Homo sapiens: one gene and its partners. The protein of the gene in region 1 purifies or fractionates together with the protein of each later gene. This does not show direct contact. Each region holds a gene or a part of one and is shown in the gene's direction. Other genes may lie near its edges.

What was found.
Region 2: the proteins of ITGB5 (region 1) and TLN2 purify together in Homo sapiens (co-immunoprecipitation; one study listed by IntAct). This does not show direct contact.
Region 3: the proteins of ITGB5 (region 1) and OSTM1 fractionate together in Homo sapiens (co-fractionation; one large-scale study listed by BioGRID). This does not show direct contact.
Region 4: the proteins of ITGB5 (region 1) and TIMD4 purify together in Homo sapiens (affinity purification with western blotting, with the first as the bait; one study listed by BioGRID). This does not show direct contact.
Region 5: the proteins of ITGB5 (region 1) and THBS4 purify together in Homo sapiens (co-immunoprecipitation; one study listed by IntAct). This does not show direct contact.
Region 6: the proteins of ITGB5 (region 1) and SEPTIN2 fractionate together in Homo sapiens (co-fractionation; one large-scale study listed by BioGRID). This does not show direct contact.
Region 7: the proteins of ITGB5 (region 1) and FERMT2 purify together in Homo sapiens (co-immunoprecipitation; one study listed by IntAct). This does not show direct contact.

What each region holds. Positions count from the first base shown.
Region 1 is NC_000003.12:124,845,866-124,849,365, reverse strand, and holds part of ITGB5 (integrin beta-5 isoform a precursor), read left to right. Parts: intron 1-807; coding exon 808-1,057; intron 1,058-3,500.
Region 2 is NC_000015.10:62,736,550-62,740,049, forward strand, and holds part of TLN2 (talin-2), read left to right. Parts: intron 1-328; coding exon 329-537; intron 538-1,664; coding exon 1,665-1,784; intron 1,785-2,798; coding exon 2,799-2,996; intron 2,997-3,500. UniProt on the Homo sapiens protein: As a major component of focal adhesion plaques that links integrin to the actin cytoskeleton, may play an important role in cell adhesion. Recruits PIP5K1C to focal adhesion plaques and strongly activates its kinase activity.
Region 3 is NC_000006.12:108,050,742-108,054,241, reverse strand, and holds part of OSTM1 (osteopetrosis-associated transmembrane protein 1 precursor), read left to right. Parts: intron 1-3,043; coding exon 3,044-3,211; intron 3,212-3,500. UniProt on the Homo sapiens protein: Required for osteoclast and melanocyte maturation and function.
Region 4 is NC_000005.10:156,928,727-156,932,226, reverse strand, and holds part of TIMD4 (T-cell immunoglobulin and mucin domain-containing protein 4 isoform 1 precursor), read left to right. Parts: intron 1-3,500. UniProt on the Homo sapiens protein: Phosphatidylserine receptor that plays different role in immune response including phagocytosis of apoptotic cells and T-cell regulation.
Region 5 is NC_000005.10:80,066,348-80,069,847, forward strand, and holds part of THBS4 (thrombospondin-4 isoform a precursor), read left to right. Parts: intron 1-1; exon of another isoform or gene 2-1,534; intron 1,535-1,625; coding exon 1,626-1,778; intron 1,779-2,166; exon of another isoform or gene 2,167-2,427; intron 2,428-3,500.
Region 6 is NC_000002.12:241,339,925-241,343,424, forward strand, and holds part of SEPTIN2 (septin-2), read left to right. Parts: intron 1-3,067; coding exon 3,068-3,169; intron 3,170-3,500.
Region 7 is NC_000014.9:52,941,051-52,944,550, reverse strand, and holds part of FERMT2 (fermitin family homolog 2), read left to right. Parts: intron 1-3,500. UniProt on the Homo sapiens protein: Scaffolding protein that enhances integrin activation mediated by TLN1 and/or TLN2, but activates integrins only weakly by itself. Binds to membranes enriched in phosphoinositides.

The sequences.
Region 1 (3,500 bases):
TTGCCTTGCACATCTCTCTCCCCAACTTGGTTCTTCCCCACTCAGGCCCACACCCCTCTTTTGTTCATTTCTTCCCTGCTTTTTGTTTCAAACGCACATTCCCATCGTGACTGGGTCTTTCTCTGGAGTTGGTATGTGGTTGGTGGGCTACTCTCCACCCAGTTTGTGTTCATGAAATTGTCTGGTTCACTGTCCACTGATTACTCAAGGGTCTTTGTTGCTGAGAAGACAGAACACTACCAAGGAGCCTGGTTGTTAAGGAGTTTCCTTAGAAATGCTAAGCCCAGGCCAGGCGTGGTGGCTCACACCTGTAATCCCAGCACTTTGGGAGGCTGAGGTAGGTGGATCACTTGAGGCCAGGAGTTGGATACCAGCCTGGTCAACATAGTGAAACCCCGTCTCTACTAAAAATGCAAAAATTAGCCAGGCATGGTGGTGGGCACCTGTAATCCCAGCTACTCAGGAGGCTGAGGCATGAGAATCGCTTGAACCTGGTAGGCAGAGGTTGCAGTGAGCCAAGATCGCACCACTGCACTCCAGCCTGGGCGACAGAGCAACACTGTCTCAAAAAAAATAAAATAAAATAAAAAAAGAAGTGCTAAGCCGAATGTTTAGGAAGGAGAACCCAGGCCTCCATTCTCAGCACCGTATTCCCTTCAGGCACTTTACTTCCAAGAAAAATCTTCTGTGAGGCACACAATCACTAAAGAAAAGTAAGAGGCAAACTAGCTTTGAAAGCAAATCCCATCCCTCAGCCCTCAGCAGGTTGCACAACCTCTAACACACGTGGCCTCTCTGTTGGTGCAGGTGACAAGACCACCTTCCAGCTACAGGTTCGCCAGGTGGAGGACTATCCTGTGGACCTGTACTACCTGATGGACCTCTCCCTGTCCATGAAGGATGACTTGGACAATATCCGGAGCCTGGGCACCAAACTCGCGGAGGAGATGAGGAAGCTCACCAGCAACTTCCGGTTGGGATTTGGGTCTTTTGTTGATAAGGACATCTCTCCTTTCTCCTACACGGCACCGAGGTACCAGACCAATCCGTGCATTGGGTAAGTGACCAGTTGCCCTTCTGTTGGGTACTTAAGGGTGGGAGAATGGAGAAGCAGGAAAATTTAGCTCAAAGAAAGAATTAAGGAAGGCATGGTTAGGAGGGGTGGCCAGGCTTAGGCGTTTAATTTGATTAATGATAAGCATACATTCTCTCCTTTCCTGACGTGTGAAGAAGTGAGTGAACTGTCACAAGGTTGTAAAGATAAAATGATCACAACCCCTTGATTTTCCTGCCTGCCATGCACAGCACCATTTGCTCACATTAATAGAATTCAGAAAATGTCCTCAGGGAGTGATGGATCCAGATTATCAGGGAGGCAGCAGGCAGGGCAACTTAAACTTTCCCCTTGCTTGTAGTAACTGAGGTGCTTTGGGAGAAATGAATTCAAAATTTGTCCCTGTTGTTTTTCTATAAATAACTATAACTTATTTTCACATAATTAGATTAAAATCCTATTTTAAATGTAAGAATTTTTTTTTCAACATAAACACCTGAACTAGAAAAGATTTGACATATTATTAGAAAACAGGTGTCTCTAACTGCTGCCAGATTCTATAATAACAAAGTGTATAATGGCTCAAACTTGCTGGAAGTTTATTTCCTGCTCCTCAAGTCCAACTGGGTCTCTTCATCCATGGAACTTCTCCTGCAAGCAGTGACTCAGGGACTCAGGTGCTTTCCATCTTCCAGGCTTTACCATCTTCCACACATGGCTCCTAAGGTCATGCTGCCTAGAGGGTCATGCATAGGAGGATAGGCCTTTGCCATGCCCGCTCCCACATGCTATTAGACGGAACAGGACTGAGCCAGGAGGCTGGGAACTAGTGTAGCTGTAGGCCCAGGAATCAGAAGAAATAGGATTAGTGAGCAGGTCTCTGCCATGGGACGTTTGTATGCATGCTGGGGTGGGTGGTTGTATGAGGGGATTGCATTCTTCAGCCCATGCAACACAACCTCTACTAGGTTGGTTTCTTTTCTTTTTAGTCTTTCAGGAGTTTCTTTAAATGTCAAGATTATGCAAGTGACTGCAGTGAGTGGTAACTTCCAACTCTTGCTTTCCTCATCTCCACATTTAACTTTAGTGAGGGTTTGTGTTGTAAGGTCCAAAACTAGTCATGAGATAGGAAATAACTAAGACTTAAGTTTTTACTAAGTGTCAAGCCCCATACTAAATATTTTCTGTGGATTATCTCATTTAAATCTCATAACAATCTGTTGAGGTCTCTAAGGTAAGTGTAAGCCAGATTTTAGAGATGCAGAAACTGAGGCCTAGAGAGAATAACTTACCCAATATTATACAAACAGCAAGGGGTAGAGCTGGAATATGAATACAGACAAACTACTTTTAGAGTCTGCATTTGCATTTTTTTTTGAGACGGAGTCTTGCTCTGTTGCCCAGGCTGGAGTGCAGTGGTGCAATCTCGGCTCCCTGCAACCTCCGCCTCCCGGGTTCAAGCCGATTCTCCTGCCCCAGTCTCCTGAGTAGCTGAGATTATAGGTGCCTGCCACCACACCTGGCTGATTTTTGTATTTTTAGTAGAGATGGGGTTTCACCATGTTGGCCAGGCTGGTCTTGAACTCCTGACGTCAAGCGACCCATCCACCTCAGCCTCCCAAAGTGCTGGGATTACAGGCATGAGCCACTGCATCCGGCCTGCGTTTGCGTTTAATATAATGTCTTCTTCCCCATTCAAATCACACTACAACACAGACACTTTACCTTAGGCTGAGTAATAATACCTGTCCCTAAACCACCCTACCCCCATGTCCTAGGGGCTTACCTGAGGATCATGGTAGGTTATGCTGCAGTAACGTAGAGTCTCCAAATCTCAGTGGCTCAACACAATGAACGTTTTTTTTTTGTTGGTTTTTTTTTTTTTTGCTTGTGCAACATCTGATGAGGGCTGAGCTGCTTTCCTTGGCAGCTCTCCATGCAGTAACTCAGGGATCCAGCTCCTTCCATCTTGTGATGCCATTCTCAATTCTTGGTCTTCCAGCTGCCACCAAGGGGAGAGAGCTGTTCTTAAATCCCTGAGCCCTCCCCTCTCCACAAGTCCTCTTTGGTAGCCTTCAGAGCTCCTAGCTCCAAGTTGGGCTGGGTGATAGGAGCAAGTTAGTGTGCTGGTGGCATAGGCTCTTCTGAATCCCTCCAGATCCTTCTGTATACTCTCCCAGAAGCTGACTTAGATCTTTTCAGGTATTGGGAACTGACACTGGTGGAAAAACAGACAAGAAAAAGTTTTAAATACAAATGAACTCTAAATTCTTTAACCACGAAGAGGCACTAGGCATCATCATTTGCTGGGTTTAGCTTCCTCCTGGCGACAGGTGGCCACAGGGACTATTACTACTTTGATTCTGTCTCCAAGGCCCTTTTCAGCTAAGTCTGGGTGTCAAATGTTTTTGTTGAAATTTTGCTGCTTACCAGGAGCAACAGCATC
Region 2 (3,500 bases), on another chromosome or scaffold:
TGTGCAGGTAATTCCATCTGTGTACTCACTGCCATGCACTTGGTGTTCTAGGTCTAGGGACAGTGGGGCAGTGGGAGCAAGGGAAGTCAGGGGGAAGAAGTCTTTAGTATTGCATTTGTTATTAATGTGTCTCTTGGTTTGGCCCAGAGCCAGGGGGATATGTTTCTGAAGCCAGCTACTTCTTTGAGAAACACAGCAATTCAAATTTTATGAAGACTAATCTGCAGCTCCCCTTCTGTGCCAGGCCCTGGTCCAGAAGCTTATTCCTAAGTAAAATGTGCCATTTAGATGGAGTCTAATTGGAAATCTGATGGACTTTTTCCCCCAGGGGTGGCTGCTAGAGAGACGGCCCAAGCTCTGAAAACACTGGCCCAGGCCGCCCGTGGAGTGGCTGCATCGACAACCGACCCCGCGGCCGCCCATGCCATGTTAGATTCTGCTCGAGACGTGATGGAGGGCTCCGCCATGCTCATTCAAGAGGCCAAGCAGGCCCTGATTGCACCTGGAGATGCAGAGCGTCAACAAAGACTGGCTCAGGTGAGGCTAGGAATGAGAAATTGTGGTTGTCATGGTCATCATTAACGTGGACATGTGGTCGGGCTGTCTCCTGGGCACTTTTCCCTGATATGAACACTGACACAGCAGATGTTTTCAGAAACTTCCAAAGGTCATAACGATGCTGGCCATACATGATACTCACTTTTGTAAGTCTTGCCTAGTATTCTCCACAGTAATGTGTGATCTGCTTAATTCACAGTCAGCAGAGGGCATGGGGGCCTTTGAATTCTGTCCTTGGGAGTTTCAGAGCCAGGACATAACATGCTTGTTTTGGGCCTATGTGTGCTGAGCTATATTGCTGTTCCTTGCCAGGGAATGAGGTAGATCCGCTAGGGCTGGCCACTCAGAAGTTTTCAACCCTGGCGCTCTATTACTTCTTTAAATGATTCTTCGACTGCCTGATGGAACCAGTTGGCTAAGGAGCATCCAGGCAGAGTCCTGGACGTGGGGCTGGGAAGGAGATGGCTTAGATGAGAGGGAATGACACTCCCCACCTCCAAAGACCTTCCTTTTAATTGAGGATACCAAAGAATGCAAACAGGGAGCCACCAAACATTTCTAGGCAACGTGAGGGCAGCTCCAGGTTGTGCTCAGAGCACCCCACTTGCCCTTGGGCAGAGTGAGGTTTGGGAGGATGGCCCCATGAGTCACTGAGCAGAAATTAACCACAGGCCTTCTAATTGTGATCCAAAAAACTCAAGGTCTCCTTCCACCTCGGCGACCTCAGCAGGGCTCCCAAGAAGGGAGATATTTTCATTTCTCTTGGTATAAGAAATCTTTGCTTTAGAACCTGACCTCATGCTGGAGAGTTCTATGTTTGAATCACAAAACTGTGGCTTACCCTGGCTTTGGGGAGCAGGTGGGATGTGCTGTGTCACTGTGTCGGACCCTTTGCTGAGACAGAATATTAACCCCAATAAGAGGGTGGAAAACATCTCTGGGACAAGGGGCCTGGATGAGGTGATGTAAGACAGGTAAGAGTGGCAGGTGGATGCTGGTGGGTCATTTCCGTATCTGCTTCAGCTCTGCATGTTTCACTGCCCATTCCCAACAAATGTGCAGAAATGTTTGTACTTAAAGGTGCTTCTCTCTCTCCACGAATTCAGGTGGCTAAAGCCGTCTCACACTCCTTGAATAACTGCGTAAATTGCCTCCCTGGGCAGAAGGATGTGGACGTGGCCTTGAAGAGCATCGGGGAGTCCAGCAAGAAGCTGCTTGTGGATTCGGTGAGAGGTTCTTAGATTGAGAAAGGACACTGGGGGACTAGGCTCGCGTTAGGTGTGAGTGAAGTCTTCTTCTCTCCATGAGATCTCTGAGCAGCTAACCCTTCCTTTAGGAGTCCTGTTTTTCCCGCCAGTCTTTGTTTTCCATGTTTTGCTGTCTGATCAACAAAGTTCCCAGGTGGAGCTTTTAAAGTTTACTTTTTCTTTGAGCCCATGTTGCCATTTCCTCTCGGATCGTCCCGGTGAGACAGGCAAAGGGGTATGTGATCACCTGTCTTCTCATCAGGACATCTCAGATAGTGACAGTCAGGTGTTGGAAGGGTACGTGTGTCCAAGCCTCAGTGAGAGAGCGAGTAGTCTGAGGAATTTCACCTTGGGGCCTGTTCCCTTCCCTGCTTTGTGAGTCTGCTGAAGGAGGGTTTGTGCTGGTGCATCTTTGTTTCTTCTCTGCACAGGTATAGAGGCAATGTTTGTGGGTGATGAATAGAGTCTAGCTTAACTCCCTAGAACTTTTCACAAATGGTTATCAGTCTGCTAGATGACATTTAAAAGTTATTAGCAAAGGCCACTAATATAATTGGTGGCTATTAGTTTGGAAGAACGTGATTTGAAGTTTGAGAGCATCTGCCTTTTAGTTTACAAAGCTAAAACTTAGCTTTCATCTTAACAGAGACAAAATAGGGTAGAGTTTTAGAGAATGGACCCTGGAGTCGGATTGCCTTGGTGTGGATCCTGTCTCTGCCACTTAGGAAACCTTGAGCCCCTGTAGATAGCTTACATTTTTAGATCCACAGTGTCTAGCACTGAGCAGGTGTTTGATACATTTAAATGAATGAATGGATGTATATGTTGGTGGTCAAACCTATTAATAAAATGGGCTCAGATGACTCAGAGCCTTTTAATCGTGATGACTCAAATGCATCTCTGAAGAGTCTGTCTCCCTTCCACAATACCTTCCTTTTATCCCTCCCCTGCAAAGCAGAATGTCTCATGGGGTGTGCCGTCTGTTCCCCACAGCTACCTCCAAGCACGAAGCCTTTCCAGGAAGCCCAGAGTGAACTGAACCAGGCAGCAGCTGATCTGAACCAGTCTGCTGGGGAAGTGGTCCATGCCACCCGGGGCCAGAGTGGAGAGTTGGCTGCAGCCTCTGGAAAGTTCAGTGATGATTTTGATGAATTCCTCGATGCTGGCATTGAGATGGCTGGCCAAGCTCAGGTGGGTGTGGAGGTGGTTGTCTGGAGTTGACCTTAGCCTCTCCTCTCGGATGGATAATCCATCCTTGAGACTGACTGAACAAATAGGAAAAGGAACCTGGAAACAGGCAGGCCATGGTTGCATTCTTTTTGCTGCTTAGGAAGCTCATGCCCTCATGGGAATGGCATTCCCAAAGATGCTATCAGCTTATGCATGAGGTGCTGTTAGTAATAAAGAATAACTTCTCCCACGATCCTCCAGCAGAATTCATAGTCTTACTATTTGGAGGGAGGGTAGGAGGAGGGAGAATGTTTAACAAAGATTAGAACAGCTCTTCAAATGTGGGATAATACAATAAAAATATATATGTATTTGAGGTTTAATGGACCATTCAGATGGTCTGTGTCTAATACAGAGTGTCAAGTGATTAAAAATTACCTCCTTCAGATGAACAGATAAACCCCTTGTTTAGAACAAGGGAGCTTGACTGATCTGGTGTCAGCTTGCAGAGCTGTGTTTTTTGTT
Region 3 (3,500 bases), on another chromosome or scaffold:
GGTGAGATAATGATTGTGAAAACATTGATTGAGGTGTGTGATTGTTTAATTAAAACACAATGGTTTTCAATCTGACTTACGTAGGTATTTTGCAGTGTAGTATGATTCTGTCTATAGGAAGTTTATTCTTTGCCTGAAATTTGCTTAAGTATGTTTTACCTACCTTAAAAAGCACTGTTTAGTAAGATAACTTTGAGTATTGAATTATGATAATAAAAGGTAGCTTTAAGAATCTTAACCTTGTAGATTATTGCCATCTCTATCTCTGACTCTTGAATTTTGGTATTGGAACTTGCCCGGTCGTGGTGAAGGACGAGGTTGGAACTCTGGTTAAAATGTAGTTTTGAAACTTACATAACAAGTAAGTAATCCCCATAGTAGATGTACACATGCTTAGGGTATAAGCATGTATGATTTCTTCTGTAATAAATGTGGTAACACTGAATTATGAATTTCCTTGAGAATAATAAAAATTGGGCCAGGTGCAGTATCTCATGCCTATAATCCCAGCACCTTGGGAGGCCAAGGCAGGCAGGTCACTTGAGGTCAGGAGTTCGAGATCAACCTGGCCAATATGGTGAAACCCTGTCTCTACTAAAAATACAAAACTTAGCCAGGCTTGGTGGTGCACGCCTGTAGTGAAGTAGAGGTTGCAGTGAGTTGAGATCGTGCCATTGCACTCCAGCCTGGGCGTTGCAGAGAGACTCTGTCTCAAAAAAATAAAATAAAAAAAATTAGGTGAACATTTCTCAGAATTTGTTCTGCAGCATGTTAATAGATGTCCTATCAGAAAGGGTTTAGTATTCCATTAAGGTTGGGAAATGCTTTACTACAGGACTTCAGAGCCTTTAGTGGACTGATGTGTGTTGTAACACTCAAATAGCAATTTTTCTATAAAGTCATCCCTTTTATATATGGCTTCACTTTCCACAGTTTCAGTTACCTGTGGCCAACTGCAGTCCAAAAATATTAAATGGAAAATTCTGGAAATAATAAGTTTTAAATTGTACACCATAAACAGTCTTCTTTTCATTTAACTTAGAGTACTTGTATGAGTTTGGTAGATTTCTAGAAGTAGAATTACTATATTGGCAGCCTAAGAAAAAGACACTAGAGAAAATTATCTCCAAATATGATGAGTTTATTAGGGAATAAGAAAGAAGTATGGTAATTTGGAATGCACTGGCAAACCACCAGTACATCCAGTGAGGGAAGGGTAAAGGGAAGCTTTTATTAGCAAAAAGGGAGAGGTTCACACAAGCTGCTTGGAAACTGAGTTCATTGGTTCCTGAGGCTCAAAGCCAAGTTGTCAGTTCATTGGTGGCGATGCCATTACTGGGCAAGTGTTCTTTTGAGTGCATCTTATCTGAATTACTGCAGTCCTAAAGAATGGCAGTGATAAACCATGTGAAAGCAGGAGTTGCAATGAAGGGCGTGAAAGGATTTCTTGTGGGGTTTTTAGAAAGTCTTTGGAAACAAGGACTCTTTTTGTCTCTATTTTGTCTTGGTCTGTCAAAAGGTGATTTCATCCTAATGTCTGCAACTTTCACATTATTAAAAGATATGTGCATTTTAAATTTGAATAAAAATTGTGGCCAGGTATGGTGGCACCTGCCTGTAATCCCAGCACTTTGGAAGGTTGAGGTGGGAGGATCATTTGAGCCCAGGAGTTAGAAATTAGCCTGGGCAAAATAGCAAGACCGTGTCTCAAAAAAAAAAAAAAAAAAAAAGGTTAAATTACTCCCCATCTAGATTATGTGCACAATTTTAGTTAAATGGATTATGTGCTCAATTTTTTTTTTTTTTTTTGAGACGGAGTCTCGCTCTGTCACCCGGGCTAGAGTGCAGTGGCGCGATCTCGGCTCACTGCAAGCTCCGCCTCCCGGGTTCACGCCATTCTCCTGCCTCAGCCTCCCAAGTAGCTGGGACTACAGGTGCCCGCCACCACGCCCGGCTAAGTTTTGTATTTTTAGTAGAGATGGGGTTTCACCGTGTTAGCCAGGATGGTCTCGATCTCCTGACCTTGTGATCCGCCCACCTCGGCCTCCCAAAGTGCTGGGTTTACAGGTGTGAACCATCGCGCCCAGCCCTGTGCTCAATTTTTAACTAAGTGCACAATTGTTCTGTGAAAAACAAGCAATGGGCTATTTCTTGTAGCAGACTAAGGAGAGACTTAGTTTTTCTGTCAAGCAGATGGTGAGGGTAACATTGTTGGGCCAACATCAGTGTAATTACTTTGATTTTTCTCTTTTCTCTTTCATCCCAATGTTCAGTTAATATTCTTTCTTCATACTACAAAGTAAAGAATAAAGGGCATAGAAAGCAAAGGTGTGAACTGACTGTTTAGCAAACTTATTCTTGAAAAGACAAGTGTCAGTCTAGAAGTACAAAATATTGAGATTTAGTAGCATAATATTTTATGTACCTCCACTATCCTCATTTTAGGTTATACAATTCTTTGGTATTTGGCCCTTTTTGTTGACTAGAAAGGCCTGGATTATGAGCCTTGTGATAAGAGAGTTGAGTGGGGATGCAGTTTTGGTGCCTTTTCCCTTTCCATTTAAAAAGTTCTGTCTCAGTAAGATAAACTATGGTGTTCAAGTCAGCATAGGCAGGAACCTATTTTATTTATTCAGTGAGAGTAGGATAGATAAGTGAGGGTTTGTGATGATGAGATAATTTAGGAAATTTTGTATTTAGTTACTAGTCATTTGGCATATGAATTATTGTTATCCTCAGTTAACATTAGCTAATGCAGCAGTTTTGAAAATTTAGAGGCACCTAGAAAGTTCCAAACAGTTTGCCATCTGCTTCACATACCGGGTCTCTAATCCTTCGGACTTATAATACAGGTAGAGGTCGTTTTATTTTATAGATGATAAAACTGAGACTCAGAGTGATTTAGTAACCTACTCAACATCACAGCTTAGCACTTTAACACACCATATTGTTTCCCGTCTTCTAGAAGCGTAAATAGCTTACATTAAAGAGATATTGTATATAATGTTTATTGTATATATTACATGTGCCTTTGTCATTTTAGGGGAATGCACATAGTCTTTTACAGACAAAAAATTATTCAGAAGTATGCAAAAACTGCCGTGAAGCATACAAAACTCTGAGTAGTCTGTACAGTGAAATGCAAAAAATGAATGAACTTGAGAATAAGGCTGAACCTGGAACACATTTATGCATTGATGTGGAAGATGCAGTAAGTACTTTGCTTCTGATGTGATACATATTTTAGAGTGTTATTGAATGTACCTTCAGTATGATTATTATTTTTGGTGATAGGGTGGAATCTGCATATTCTGTCCTCAACCAAAAATAACTAGTTATAAAGTAGTAAAGTTTTAGAATATCCTGGTCTGTTAAACCAAAATGGATATTTCCTTAGTAGTCTCATGGTTAGGATAAAAATAAAACAGAAATTAATTAGGTACTTCATAAGTGAGTTGATGCTTTGGTACATTTTAATCTTTTTAAATTTGAAAATATGT
Region 4 (3,500 bases), on another chromosome or scaffold:
TGAGAAAATTTAGAAATTAGACAAAATTAAAATGGTACTAGGAAGAATAATTTTAATTGTCTTGATATTTCTACTTGAAAGCAGGTGTATTTAGTCTTTATGTTTCTTTTTAGTTTTCTTTGGGGAATAAGTATGCAAATATTTAAGAATACATAATTGTATTTCTGTATGTATTTTTAAGTATTTGCATACTCATTCCCTATACTAAGCGTAGTTTTATATCCTTTTAAAAGAATACTGTGTAATGATAATTTTTCTCAGTAAAATTCTTTGAAAAAAGATATCCAGAATTAGAAAGGTTAAAAAGGATATAGGAGATCAGTTGGTGAAATATTAATATTTTCAGATGAAGAAACTATGGCTCAGAGAAGGAAAGTATCTTAGCCAAGGTCGCATAGCCAGGAAAGTTGACATAAATACTTAGTGATGGCAGAGAGTCCCAGGATGCCACAGTGAGGAAGGCTGAGGGGCAAGCCCTTGGCAATACTCCAAGATCTAAGGTTAAGTGTTACAGGAATTTCATTTTACCAGAGTGCCCATGCCTACCAAGAACTCAAGAGACCAAAATACAAGCTAGAAAGCCAATTTACTAACTTACAGTAAGAATTCTAGCTGCCAAGAGATCTAACCTGTAATCCTCCTGTAAATGTATTCTCATCCTATAGAAACATCTAATATTAACCAGAAGGTTTGGTGAATCCATGGACCCAGGAAAAGTGGAGTTAATGTTAAGATTGTTTTGTTAATGTTTAAATTTTAATTAATTTAAGATACATCATACACACTCATGGAAAAAGTACAAAGCATGCAAAAAATGTTAACATGAAAAGTCAATCTTCCTTTCATATCTTGTGCCTGTCCCAGAACAACTGTTCTTTTGGAAGGTCTTAGGAACCACTGTCTCTGTATTAGTTTCTTGTTGCTGCTGTAACAAATGACCTCAAACTTACTGGCTTAACACACAAATTTATTATCTCAGAGTTGTGAAGGGTAGAAGCTCTAAAATCAAGGTGTTGGCAGGGCTATATTCATACTGGATTTGTTAGGGGATAATTTGTTTCTTTGCTTTTTCTAGCTCCTAGAGGCATTCCTTGGCTTGTGACTCCTTCCTTCATCCTCAAAGTCAGCAGCATAGCATCTTCAAATATCTCTCTCTCTCTGTGATCTCTTCTTCCTTTATCACACATCCTCTGACTTCTTCTCTAACTTTCTTGCCACCTCCTCATAAGGACCCTTGTAATTACATGAGACCCACCAGATAACCCAGGATAATCTTCTCATCACAAGATCCTTAGCTTAATGACATTGCAAAATATCTTTTGCCATGGAAGAGAACATATTCACAGTTTCTGAAGATTAGGACATGGACATATTTGGGTGTCATTATTTTGCTGACCACAGTCTCCAAACTACATTTGAGAGATGAATGACTCCTTCTTCTCTAGACCAGACTAATAATGTGTTCTGATGAAAAATAATGTATTCTTGTTATTAAGATGCTTATTTATATTTGTTTACCAATTTGTTCAGTACATTATGAAATATATCCTTCTGGAAAATGTTTAAAAGATAAGGTATAAATAAATGTAAATAGAAGTTGTCATTTTCCCCACAGCCAGTGGATTGCCTGCTACACTCATGGTGAGTACCGAGCCCTCTTTAGAGACCACTGTCCTAAACTATCCTTTTTCTACATTCAGTGCAAATCACTGTCCTGAACATTCCTTTCTTCTGTCAGTAGGACATGCTATTTATATGGTACAAGGCACTTGAACTCCAGCATAATGAGGTTGTTAACAGTATAGGTATTTATGTCAGTCAAACAGTTCAAATCCCAGCTCCACAACTACCACCTGTCCAACCTCCATCACATTGCTCAACCCCATGGGCCTCATTTTTTTCACTGGCAATATGGCATAATGTCTGTCTCATAGGGTTGCTTGTGAGGATTAAATATTCAGTGTGAGGCTGGGTGCAGTGGTTCATGCCTGTTATCCCAGCACTTTGGAGGCTGAGGCGTGCGTATCACTTGAGGCCAGGAGTTTGAGACTGGTCTGGGCAACATAGCAAGACCCTGTCTCTACTAAAAATACAAAAAATTGGTGGTGCATACCTGTAATCCCAGCTACTTGGGAGGCTGAGGCATGAGAATCGCTTCAACCTGGTAGGCGGAGGTTGCAGCGAGCCAAGATCGTGCCACTGCACTGCAGCCTGGGTGACCGAGCGAGACTCTGTCTCCAAAATAAATAAATAAATAATGTTCAATGGAATTTTAATAACAATATGACATTAGATTTATACTCTTTGGAGTTTAATACTAGGATCTTTCGTTGGATTTAGTCTTCTTACCTGTGCTCAGCACCCACTTCCTGACTTTTTTTTAGGTTGGTTACCCCTGTTTAAGGTTGCTTTCATTCTTTGTGTGTTGATTCCTTTGAATTTATTTCCTGGGGCTGCTGTAACACAAAGTACCACAAACTTAAAACCACGGAAATTTTCATTCTCTCTCAGTTCTGGAGGGCAGAAGTCTGACAAATCAAGGGGTTGGCACAGCCATGCTCTCCTTGGAGGCTCTAAAGGAGAACCCTTCCTTGCCTCTTCCTAGCTTCTGGTACTCCAGGGATTCCCTGGCTTATGACAGCATCACTCCCATCTCTCTCGTCTTCACATGACCTTCTCTGTGTGTGTCTCTCTGTGACCCCTTCTCTTAAGGACACCAATCATTGGATTTAGGGCCTACCCTAAATGTAGAATGATTTTGTCTCAAGAGCTTAACTAATTACATCTGCAAGGACACAATTTCTAAACAATGTCACAGTCTGAGGTTCTGGGTGGATGTGATTTGGTGGGGAGAGGGGGTAGTGATACTATGCTACTCATTATACTTCCCTCTTGCAGAATTGCTTTACTCCCAAGTTCTGGGAGGCTCCTGCCTTTGTCTCAATGTACATGTGTCAGAGCTCAGGGCCTTGAGAATCTAAGGGCTGGGGGAACACAGACAACCTGGAAATCAGTAGTTTTGCCTTGTCTAACCCCATCCCCTTGCCACTGGCATGGCTACTTTTCACAAGGAAGAAAAATCACAGTCAACTTGTTCTCAGTGTTGCCATTCTGTGTATGACACTGTAGCCCTTGGAGTGCTTCCCATTTGGGCTTTTAGCATCTTCAGAAGAAGAAGAAGAAGAAAGAAAAAAGTGCTGTTTGGTATCACGCAGCAGCATTTGTGTTTGCAAAATGTCTCTCCCATTGGACGATTCCAATTTAAAATACAGATTAGCTCTGACAAAACTGACCCAGGCTGGCTTTTCTGTTTGATAGTTTCAATTTCAGGCTTATTCATCACAAATGATTGTAATACAACAGGATTTTGACAGAACAAGGGTAGGAGTTTTGAATTCTTACCTGCAATTTTCAGCTCTAGGGGATAATTGCAGAGAGAAAAACAACAATAACTTAGTTCTAGGATATGAAAACATGCTGAATTTCCCCTTTGTTCCTAG
Region 5 (3,500 bases), on another chromosome or scaffold:
ATTTATCAAGTCACTTATTTTAATCCTCACAACAACCTCATAAACAGGGATTATTATTATCCCCATTTTACAATTGAAGAAACTGAGGGACAGAAATATTACATCATTAAGTCCAGGCATGGTGGAGCATGCCTATAGTCCCAGCTCCTCAGGAGGCTGAGGCCGAAGGATCATTTGGGTACAAGAGTAGTTTGAGGCTACAGTGAGCTGTGATCGCCACTGCACTCTAACCTGGGTGACAGAGGGAGACCCTGTCTCCAAAAAGAAAAAAAAGAAATGTTACGTATTTAGACTAAGGTCACACATCTTCCAGGTTGGCTACAGAGCCTGAGTTCTTCTCCGCAATGCTATATTGCTTAGGAATAGATGGGGATTTATTGCTTCTCAGCTTTTACCAGGACAAAGTAGTCTGCAAATAGATTTGCGAGATCTTGGTGTAAAGGTAATAACTGAGCCACCTAGAGAGAAGGAAAGTAGACAGTAAATAGAACTCCAGGAAACCCCAAAAACGAAGGACTAGGCCAAGGAAAAAGAGCAGAAGCCAGAAAAAGGAGCGAACTGATAGCACAGCCAGGGAGGCTGAAAGATCGAGACAAGTCATTGGAAAGCATGCATTGGATTTGGCAACTAAGAGGTTGTGAGTGACTTAAATCATTAAACAATATATATACTTCAAATGGATGTCTTTTACGACCTGTAAATGTTATGCCAATAAAACTGCATAAGATGAAAAAGATCTAATGTACAGCATGGTGACTGTAGTTAATAATACTATATTATATATATGAAATCTGCTAAGAGAGCAGATCTTAAGTGTTCTCACTGAAAAAGAAAAAAAGGAAGGTAACTATGTCAGTTGATGGATGTGTTACTTAACTGACTGTGGTAATCATTTCACAATGTATACGTATATCACATCATCACACTGCACACTTTAAATATATTCAGTTTTGTCAATTATACCTCAATAAAGATGAAAATTTTAATTTTCATTTTTTAAACATATTGTATAATATTTATTACATATATAGTGTGCAGTGTGATAATATATATTATATATATAAAAGCTAAAAAAACCTGGCCCCTGAAGTGTCATTGCAGCGGAGCTGACAGCTCATTTGTCAGTTTCTCAGCCTACCTCATCAGAAATTCTCAATGCAGGCCACCAGCATTTCTCTGTGCACCCATTCCTTTGTCATTCCATTGTAAAAGAGCCAAAGGAACAGCAATAAGAAAAATTAACTTGCTTTTTAAGCAGATCATCTCCCTGTCCCCAGAGTAAACTTCTCACACCACCTCCCAGGACTTCACTGGAACTTTTGACCTGTCCCCTATGCCCTCCACGGTGGCGCGGGCAACTCAGTGTCATTGGTTCACAGTCCAGCCTTCTTCCTTCACTTCTATTCCTTCTTTGTCTGAGTGGCCGGACGCAGCCTCCAGTCTGATGGTGTTTTCATCAACATTCACATGATCTTACATGTAAGCAAAGAAGAAGGCATGGATCTGATGCCTGATTCCTGCCAGCAATGAGTACCTGTGAAAATATACACAATAACTGTACCTTTGCTCAAACTGTACCTTTGCCCACAGCTTTCAGCTCATCACCTGATCTTTGTTCCTTGCAGGGATCTTACCGCTGTGGGCCTTGTAAGCCGGGGTATACTGGTGATCAGATAAGGGGATGCAAAGCGGAAAGAAACTGCAGAAACCCAGAGCTGAACCCTTGCAGTGTGAATGCCCAGTGCATTGAAGAGAGGCAGGGGGATGTGACATGTGTGGTAAGTTGTTTTTTGACTTCCTCTATCATTTTTCCTCTTCCATTTTTAACACCACCTCTCTCCAGTTTCTATGTGCTTCAGGGTAAAAGTACTCCAAAATGAAAGCATTGCAATTAAATGAGCATGGAGTGTAATAGGAACAGGGTCCACCGAGTTTGTGGGGAGCAGCCTGACATCCATCTAACCATCAGCTGCCTTTTCTCTCCCTCTTGGCTGGGGGGCAACCCTGTCCACTTGGGTACCTGGATGCCAGAGCCTCCGGTGAAGCCCCAGCTCCCAAGCACCTTCTATGGAAAGGCCCAGAAGCCAGCAGCAGGGAGGTGAAGGAACATTCTTCTCCCCTTTCCTTCTTCTGCCCCATCTACCTGCCTGTATAATGACAACATACCTGCTGTCATCTCTAACTGTCCTCATCCTTACAACTTCCAGAGTCTGTCTGCCTTGACGCTCCTGTTGGGGGTGGGCCATCGTGTAGAGGTGGGGACTGTCATAGTCCCTCCGGGAGAAACCTTCCGTCTTTGGCAGGTGACTGGCAGGGCCAGACGGCGCCATGCTGTATGTCTACCTCCACTCCAATCAGGGACAGCTCCATGAATGGTCACGCTTCCTGTGCATTCTCCAGCCACGGAGCTGGTCTGGGGAGGGGAGGCTGGGAAGAGAGTAGAGCAGTCACAGCAGGGCCTGACATGGGTCCCATGCTGAGCTTGTAGTGGGCCCTATGTGAAGGAGAGGGCATGCTCCTGCCATCCATTCCCAAATCCAAGGATCCAGAGTCCTCAGCCTGCCATCCATTCCCAAATCCAAGGATCCAGAGTCCTCAGCCTGCCATCCATTCCCAAGTCCAAGGATCCAGAGTCCTCAGCCTGCCATCCATTCCCAAATCCAAGGATCCAAAGTCCTGGGGATCCTAGGCACTGAAAAATCAGCAGACTTCAGCTGCCCCCCTCCTCTGCACTTCCTGGGATGCCAGGCCCTCGGCCGGTGGCCCGTCAGACTCTGGGGTCACTGGTTCACAGTGATCACCCCTGAGTAGCAAGATGGATTCTCGGAGCCCTTTTCCATCTTTATCTCAAAGTTATGCTTCTTTATCTTTATGCATACACAATTTTCCACAATGAGCCTACCACTTTTCAAATAGGAAAAATAAGAGTCAAAAATGAGTTAATAAATAAATATAATGAAGTCAGCCCTCCTTGGCAATACAGATATTCTGTAACAAGGTCAGATGGAAGAATGTGGTGTATCAGAGGGGGAATAACCCCAGCAATTTCCTGAATTCCTCATGGTTGGGCTTGTTTATTACCAAAAAGCAGTCATTGAGAAACAAGTGTATATCTCTGTTGAAATCCCCATTTTCTGTGAACAAATTGACAACTCCCCTGGGATGATGGGTGATGGGGCTCTTAATATGTTTTTGAATTTGTAATAAGGCACAACGACAGATGGTAAAGGATTAATAAACTTGGCGTGACTACTAAAATAATTGAATCTGCCAGAAAATAGCTCATTAAAAATGTATTTGTTCCTAGAGGACATTTTTTCCTCATTAAAGTGAGTCAAGGATCAGCCTCGTGGATCAGCCTTCCAGGCCTTCCAAAGGCCCTGCTGGGGCAAGTGAGCAGGAACCAGGAGCCCGGGAGGGTCTCTCTGGAGTTCTGCCTCCTAAATCCTGGTTGCAGAGGGAGAGCACAGATGATTGAGAATAAGCAGGCTGTGGCTGAG
Region 6 (3,500 bases), on another chromosome or scaffold:
TCACTTATGTATTCCCAGAGTTCCGAATAATGTCTGGCACATAATAGATTTGTTGCATAATTGTTGTAATGAACACTGGTGTACATCTATCTTTTCACAATTGTGTGAGCCAAACGAATTCTTAGGAAATAAGTATACATTTAAATTTTTGAAGGATGACTAAATTTGCTCTAAAGTAAGTTTGTAACAATTTACATTTCCAAAGTGTACTCTTCTCTCCACCCCCTAAAACTGTCCTGGTTATGTTGCCAGTTTTTGTAATGTGTTTCCTGTCTGAGAAATTGTATCTCATTTGAATTTGCCTTTCCTTGATTGCCGATGTGAGTATCTGTGCTGGTGTTGATGCCGGTTGGTGTATTCTCTCAGGTTGCAGGGACTTGGCTCTTGCTTTTTTATTGACTTAACACATATACTTATTTTTAGATGTTGACTATCACGTTGCAGATGATTTCACCTGGTTTGACTTTCATTTTTTCACATTTTTCTTGGTGCTTTTTTCCAAAGCAATTTTTAAGCAGCATGTAGTCATGTTTGGCAGCCTTTTCCTAAATTGTCTCAAGTGCCTGCCAGTTTTTTAGAAAGTATTTGAACCTTTGAAGAACCCCTGGAAGCGTAGACGTTTTTATGCTAATAAATACTTTAGTAATTCCTACTTAAGGGAACTTCACCTTTTGTACTCTGCTATATTAAATTTCTTTGAGGTAGAAATGGGGGTGGTGTCAGGGTTAGAATGCTGTAATTCTAATCTCTAATCCTGTATGCGAAACATTTAGTGCTGGATTACAACATCTGAGATGAATCGAAATACTTCGAGCTTTTATCCCTTCCTTCTTGGGCCTCATTAATCACTTCTCTTCCTCCAGTTTCTCCTTGATGCCTACCAGTTTGTTCATTCTGCCCTATCTACAAGAACCTCTTGCCTCCTGCCAGCCTCTACTAGCTTCTTGCCTTCACCAGCCTTTCTTCTAGTCAGACACTTACTGGTAGCTGTTATCTGCCCTCCCCATGATCCTGTTCACTCAGGCTTCCTGTCATCCACCTGCAATTGCTCTCTCATGGGCTTGGCCAACAGTTCAGTTCTCAGATGTGGGCCCCACCTGTGGGGTTTGTGTGATTGGCAATTCTACTTCTGAAACTTCCCTTCCTTGGCTGCTGAACCACTGTGTTTGCTTTTCTATCTGCTGTTTTTTACCACCTTCCTTCCTGATCCCTGAAGGTCAGTATTCCTTAGTATTATTTTGATCACATTATTTCTGTGGCTTCTGATTTGCCCTTCCAGGTATCTTATTTCTTGTTGTGAACCACATTTACCCACAGGAGTCCTCTTTTGACCACTGATGGACTCCTGTCCTTCCAGCTCCCCTGTCTCTTTAAATGGTCCCACAATTCTTGAAATCATCCAGACTGAGAAATGTGTAAATTATTTTTTACTCATCACTTCTGACTCCTCTGCTCACTTTTAAATAGCTTACTAACTGTTTCCGAACTCTTCTCTCCTCCAAAGTGTAAGCTCCATCTTTATGAGGCCAGCATAGGACAAAAGATGAGGTTAGCATGGATGGATAGTAGACCAGGAAAGGGGCCGTAAGATGAGGACAGGTGAGCAAGTTCATGCTTCTTATTGCTCAGTTTCTCCCAGAGATAAGATGGTTCCTCCCATTTAGGAATAAGGATTTATGAAAAGACTGAAGGTCGAGTTACAGAGTAAAGGATGTAGAGAGGAGGGCCTTTTCTGGAGTTCTGAATTAGTGCAGACATTGTACTAAGACCAAATCTCTGACCATTCAAGGCCCTTTTTAGGTCACATTAAGGCTTTCCATTCTTAAAAACCAGAAAGCAAATCCAGTGCACAGTTTGAGGTCGGGATATTTTCTGCTCACGTTGCTCTTGTTCTCTCTTCCCTGAATGGCTCAGGTACTGAGGTGAGACCAAACAAAACTGTGGCCTGCCTGGTGCCTGTGAGAATGCCCACCATGCAATGAGCATTTGAGTGCTAGGGTTTTAATTGATTGACTGATGAATGCATTCGTATTTCAACTTCAGCCCAGTTCTTTCTCCCCTCAAGCCCCATCCCCCACACTACTGCCTGCTTGATAGGTCCGATTGTGGGATTTCACTGCTGACTGCTGGCTGCCTGTTGAATGAAATACAGATCCCCAGGTCGCTAGCCTGGTGTTGATGGAACTCTCCACTTTGTAATTCCAATTTTTGTTTCCTTATCCAACTGGATGTCTTAGATTCCAACCTTTTGAATTTCTTATTCTCAAAATGCACCCCATGTGTCCTCTCTGTGCCTTTGACGAGGTTTTGTTTTTTTTTCTTTCTTTCTTCCTTTTTTTCCATCTGGGGTACTTCTCCCTTCTCTCTGCTTTTAAGACTCCTGCCTGTTCTCCAGGGTCTTCTCATGCCTGTAGCTTCTCTGTGGCAATTACCCTTCTTGAGGCTGATTGTGGTGTGATTTCCATTTTAGCTGTTGTGCTGGGGCTATCGTTAGTCTTCCTGCTGCTTTGTACATTGAGGGTAGTGGTGCATTATTGCTAATGTTATTTTTATTCTGTACAGAGGATCCTCAAAATTCAAGTATAAATACCTTTCTAGCAGTTTTGTAAATTTTTTTTTTTTTTTTTTTTTTTTGAGACGGAGTCTTGCTCCGTCACCCAGGCTGAAGTGCAGTGGTCTCAGCTCACTGCAAGCTCCGCCTCCCGGGTTCACGCCATTCTCCTGCCTCAGCCTCCCCAGCAGCTGGGACTACAGGCGTCCACTGCCACGCTTAGCTAATTTTTTTGTATTTTTAGTAGAGACAGGGTTTCACCATGTTAGCCAGGATGGTCTCCATCTCCTGACCTTGTGATCCACCTGCCTCGGCGTCCCAAAGTGCTGGGATTACAGACGTGAGCCACCACACCCGGCCGCAGTTTTATAAATTTATTTGACAGTAACTTTCGTCATCAGTTTGATTATTGACATTTGTATGATTTCCAATATATTTCTTACAAGATGAGCTAGAATTGGCTACAATAACATACGCAGTTTGCTAAAATTGATCCTGGTTTTGTCATTCTCTCAGATTCTGGATGAAATTGAAGAACATAACATCAAAATCTATCACTTACCTGATGCAGAATCAGATGAAGATGAAGATTTTAAAGAGCAGACTAGACTTCTCAAGGTAAGAACTGGCTTCAGATCCACAACATAAATAACTCCTGTTTACTGTTGTCCATGTTGAGGTGAGAGAGATTGCCTGGGTATGTTCAGTTACGAGAGTATTTTTGCTTTCAATATATTTTAAGACCTCATGCAGTGGCTCATGCCTATAATCCCAGCACTTTGAGAGGCCAAGGCAGATGGATCAGTTGAGGCCAGGAGTTCCAGACCATCCTGGCCAACATGGTGAAATCTCATCTCCATCAAAAATACAAAAATTAGGTGGATGTGGTGGTGCACACCTGTAGTCCCAGCCACTCGGGAGGCTAAGGCAGGAGAATCACTTGAACCCA
Region 7 (3,500 bases), on another chromosome or scaffold:
AAAATACTTTAAACACTAGGATTAGAGCTTGGCAAGATGCACACTGGGAAAGAGGCATACGTAACTGGACAGCTCCCTTATACCCTGGCTTAGTGCTCCCTGGGGAAGGTGTGTGCTTATTTGGTGGAATGGTGCCTATGCAGTTGAAATCCTTAGTTTTTCCCCTTGAGGGCTCACAACTGAATTCATGGAAATTAATGCCTACATGATGCATCCTCATTGCATTCATAGTGAAATACATTAACATTATAAGAAATTTTTTTAAATCTTGGGGGTGGAGTAGGAAACAATGTTAAAATCTTATTAAAGTGAATTAAGTTTTGGTTAAATCTGATAGTAAGTTTACTCAGTGTTTAAAACACTGTTCATGATCCATAGGAAGTGAATTAAATTGTATCAGTTTCTTAGCAAATTTTAAGTTCTTTAAAAGTGGAGGACAGTACTCAAGTTTTACTGTAATCCTGTGACAGCTAATAAAGTATGAGCTATTCCTTAGAGTATGTGCTATTTGCTGCCTTTTGTTTTTGTTTTGCTGCTATGTTTTATACCCAGTTTTTTAAAGTAAAAAACTGTTTGTTTCCAACTAGAGTTAACTTATTTATAGAGATGCTAAAAATATGTTTATTCAATTACTTATAAAAGGCCTTGTTGGAAATGTCTAATCGCTCGCTATTGAAGAGAATGGAAAGAAAATATGTAAAATTTTACCTGTTATCTTTGGCTCTTAATTTTTAAAAGTTTCAAACATCTAAGTTCAAGAGTAATTGAGTGAACACTGCGTAATCTTCATCTAGACACCAGTTAGTATTTTGCCATTTGAATTTTCTATACACACAAACATACACATGTTGGGGAGCAGTTGGATGAAGTTTCAGACTTACTCATAACCTTTGATTCCTAAATATTTAAATATGTATCACCTAAGAACAAGAAACTTCTCTTGCATAATTACAGTATAGTGATCACATTCAGGAAATTCAACATTGATTCACTTCTGTCATCTAATATGCATCCATTTTCAAAATTTGCCAGTTGTCCCAATAATGGCCTTTGTTTTTTTCCCATCCAGAATCTCATTTCGCATTTAGTTGAAAGGGCCTCTTAATCTCCTTTGATATACAGAACAGCCACCAAGTGTGGAGCTACAGGAGATTATATAATAAATGGCTTATTGACATTACATTAAGATACATGTAAAATGATAGTATCTGTTTGTAAACTTTATGGCCACCCTGTAGAACAGTTCCTCAGCCTTGGTCTTTTAAGACATTGTTTAACCTTTTTAAAATAAGGTTCTTAGTATCAGTGCAAATTTCACTTCAGAGTGATTTTTTTTTCTTTTGAGACAGAGTTTTGCTCTTGTCACCCAGGCTGGAGTGCAGTGGCACGATTTCAGTCCACTGCAACCTCCGCCTCCCAAGTTCAAGTGATTCTCCTGCCTCAGCCTCCCAAGTAGCTGGGATTACAGGCACCCGCCACCACGCTAATTTTTGTATTTTTAATAGAGATGGGATTTCACCATGTTGGCGAGGCTGGTCTTGAACTCCTGACCTTAGGCGATCCGCCCACCTCGGCCTCCCAAGGTGCTGGGATTACAGGCATCAGCCACCACGCCTGGCCAAGAGTGATATTTTTATAGGTTCTTTTTCACATACTTTATTTTTAAAATTTAGTTTACTTCTTAGCTTACTATTAAATAAGCTGTTAATAATAGTTTTAGACATCATTGGATGTAGGTTTCCCATAATGTCAGCTGTTCTCAGACTGTAGTAGGTGCTGATGGAGGCACAGATTATTAAGAAATAACAGGTTGCCTAGTGTGTCAGAAGATCTGGATTCAACTTCTGGCTCTGTCTGCTACTTTACTGGTTAGTATGACCTTTGGACAATGAATCCAACCTGAGTGGGTTTTGACTTCTATAAAATAGAAATTGAAAAAAATTTTCTTGGGGCGGGCGGGGTGGCTCACGCCTGTAATCCTAGCACTTTGGGAGGCCGAGGCAGGTGGCTCACGAGGTCAGGAGATCAAGACCATCCTGGCTAACACGATGAAACCCCGTCTCTACTGAAAATACAAAAAATTAGCTGGGCGTGGTGGTGGGCGCCTGTAGTTGCAGCTACTCGGGAGGCTGAGGCTGGAGAATGGTGTGAACCCAGAAGGGGGAGCTTGCAGTGAGCCGGGATCGCGCCACTGCACTCCAGCCTGGGTGACAGAGCAAGACTCCATCTCAAAAAAAAAAAAAAGAAAAAGAAAAACATTTTCTCACAGGTTTTGGTGAGAATTAAATGAGATAATACATATATATTGATACTACATGTATATATACTTTATATAAACTATTTGTGTTATGCAAATGAGAGTGGATACTTCTCTGTGGCATTGAGTCTCTGAGTATATGAAAGTAGGAAGGAAAAAAAGGAAAAGTAGGTTAAAATATAATCTAGTATATTTAATAAGTTCCAGCTTTACTGGTGGGGAATTGCACTCCTCAAAAAAAGCTTAGTTTAGGATTGCTTTCTGTTCCCACCCTCTAAACAACAAGAAAAAATAGCTGTCATTTTACTTTCCCGCCAACTTCCAAACACACACCTGCCTCTGCAGTGTAAGAGAGCTATTTAAGTACCATTTTAATAAGATTTCTGAAATGCAGGGGACCAATAAGTGGATGATGGTATTCCAGGTATTTGAAAAATCTAAAACCATGAAAGCATCAGTAGTAAATTAATTCTCTACTTAATATATTCTATAAGAGCAGTGTTTTTAGTTCATTTATAGCAAAGGCACATGAAAACATTGGGCCTATTTAGAAACTAATGAAAGTAGTTTCAGAAAAAAGCTAATGTATGCAGTATTCCTATTTAAATAATTATTTTACTGACAAATTAATGCTTATGCCATGGAACATTTAAAATTGGTATATATGCCCAGTGAGAAGTAAACAAATACATCTGAAAGTGTATTTTTAAATAATTCTTTTATTTTGTAATTAAGAAGTGTGACTTCTGCACTTGGGTTTGTGGTTACAAATTCATATTCGTTATAATTCATTCTTTAACAAATTAGTTGCATAATTACTATATAATTGTTTTTCCTGTTAATTTTTTTTCTTAGTGTCAGGCTCATTGAGGTCTGATTGACATATAGTAAAATTTATCCTTCTTAGTATAATATTCTGAGTTTTGACATGTAAAACTACCACAGTCAAGATAGAAAACTTTTACAGTACTCCCAAAAGTTTCCTTTGTAACCGTCTCATCGCCTCAAACCCAGATCCTAAAAACCAGTGATAATTTGCCTTTTCTAGAATGGCCTGCAAATGGAACCATTCAGTTCTAGCTCTTTGAATCTGGTTTCTTTCACTTAGCATAATACATGTTAGCTTCGTTCATGTGTTTGTATCAATAGTTTTTTATCACTGAGTAGTAGTCCATTGAATGGATTATTTCACAGTTTGTCCATTTAGCAATTGAAGGGCATTTGGGTTACTCCCAGTTTTAGG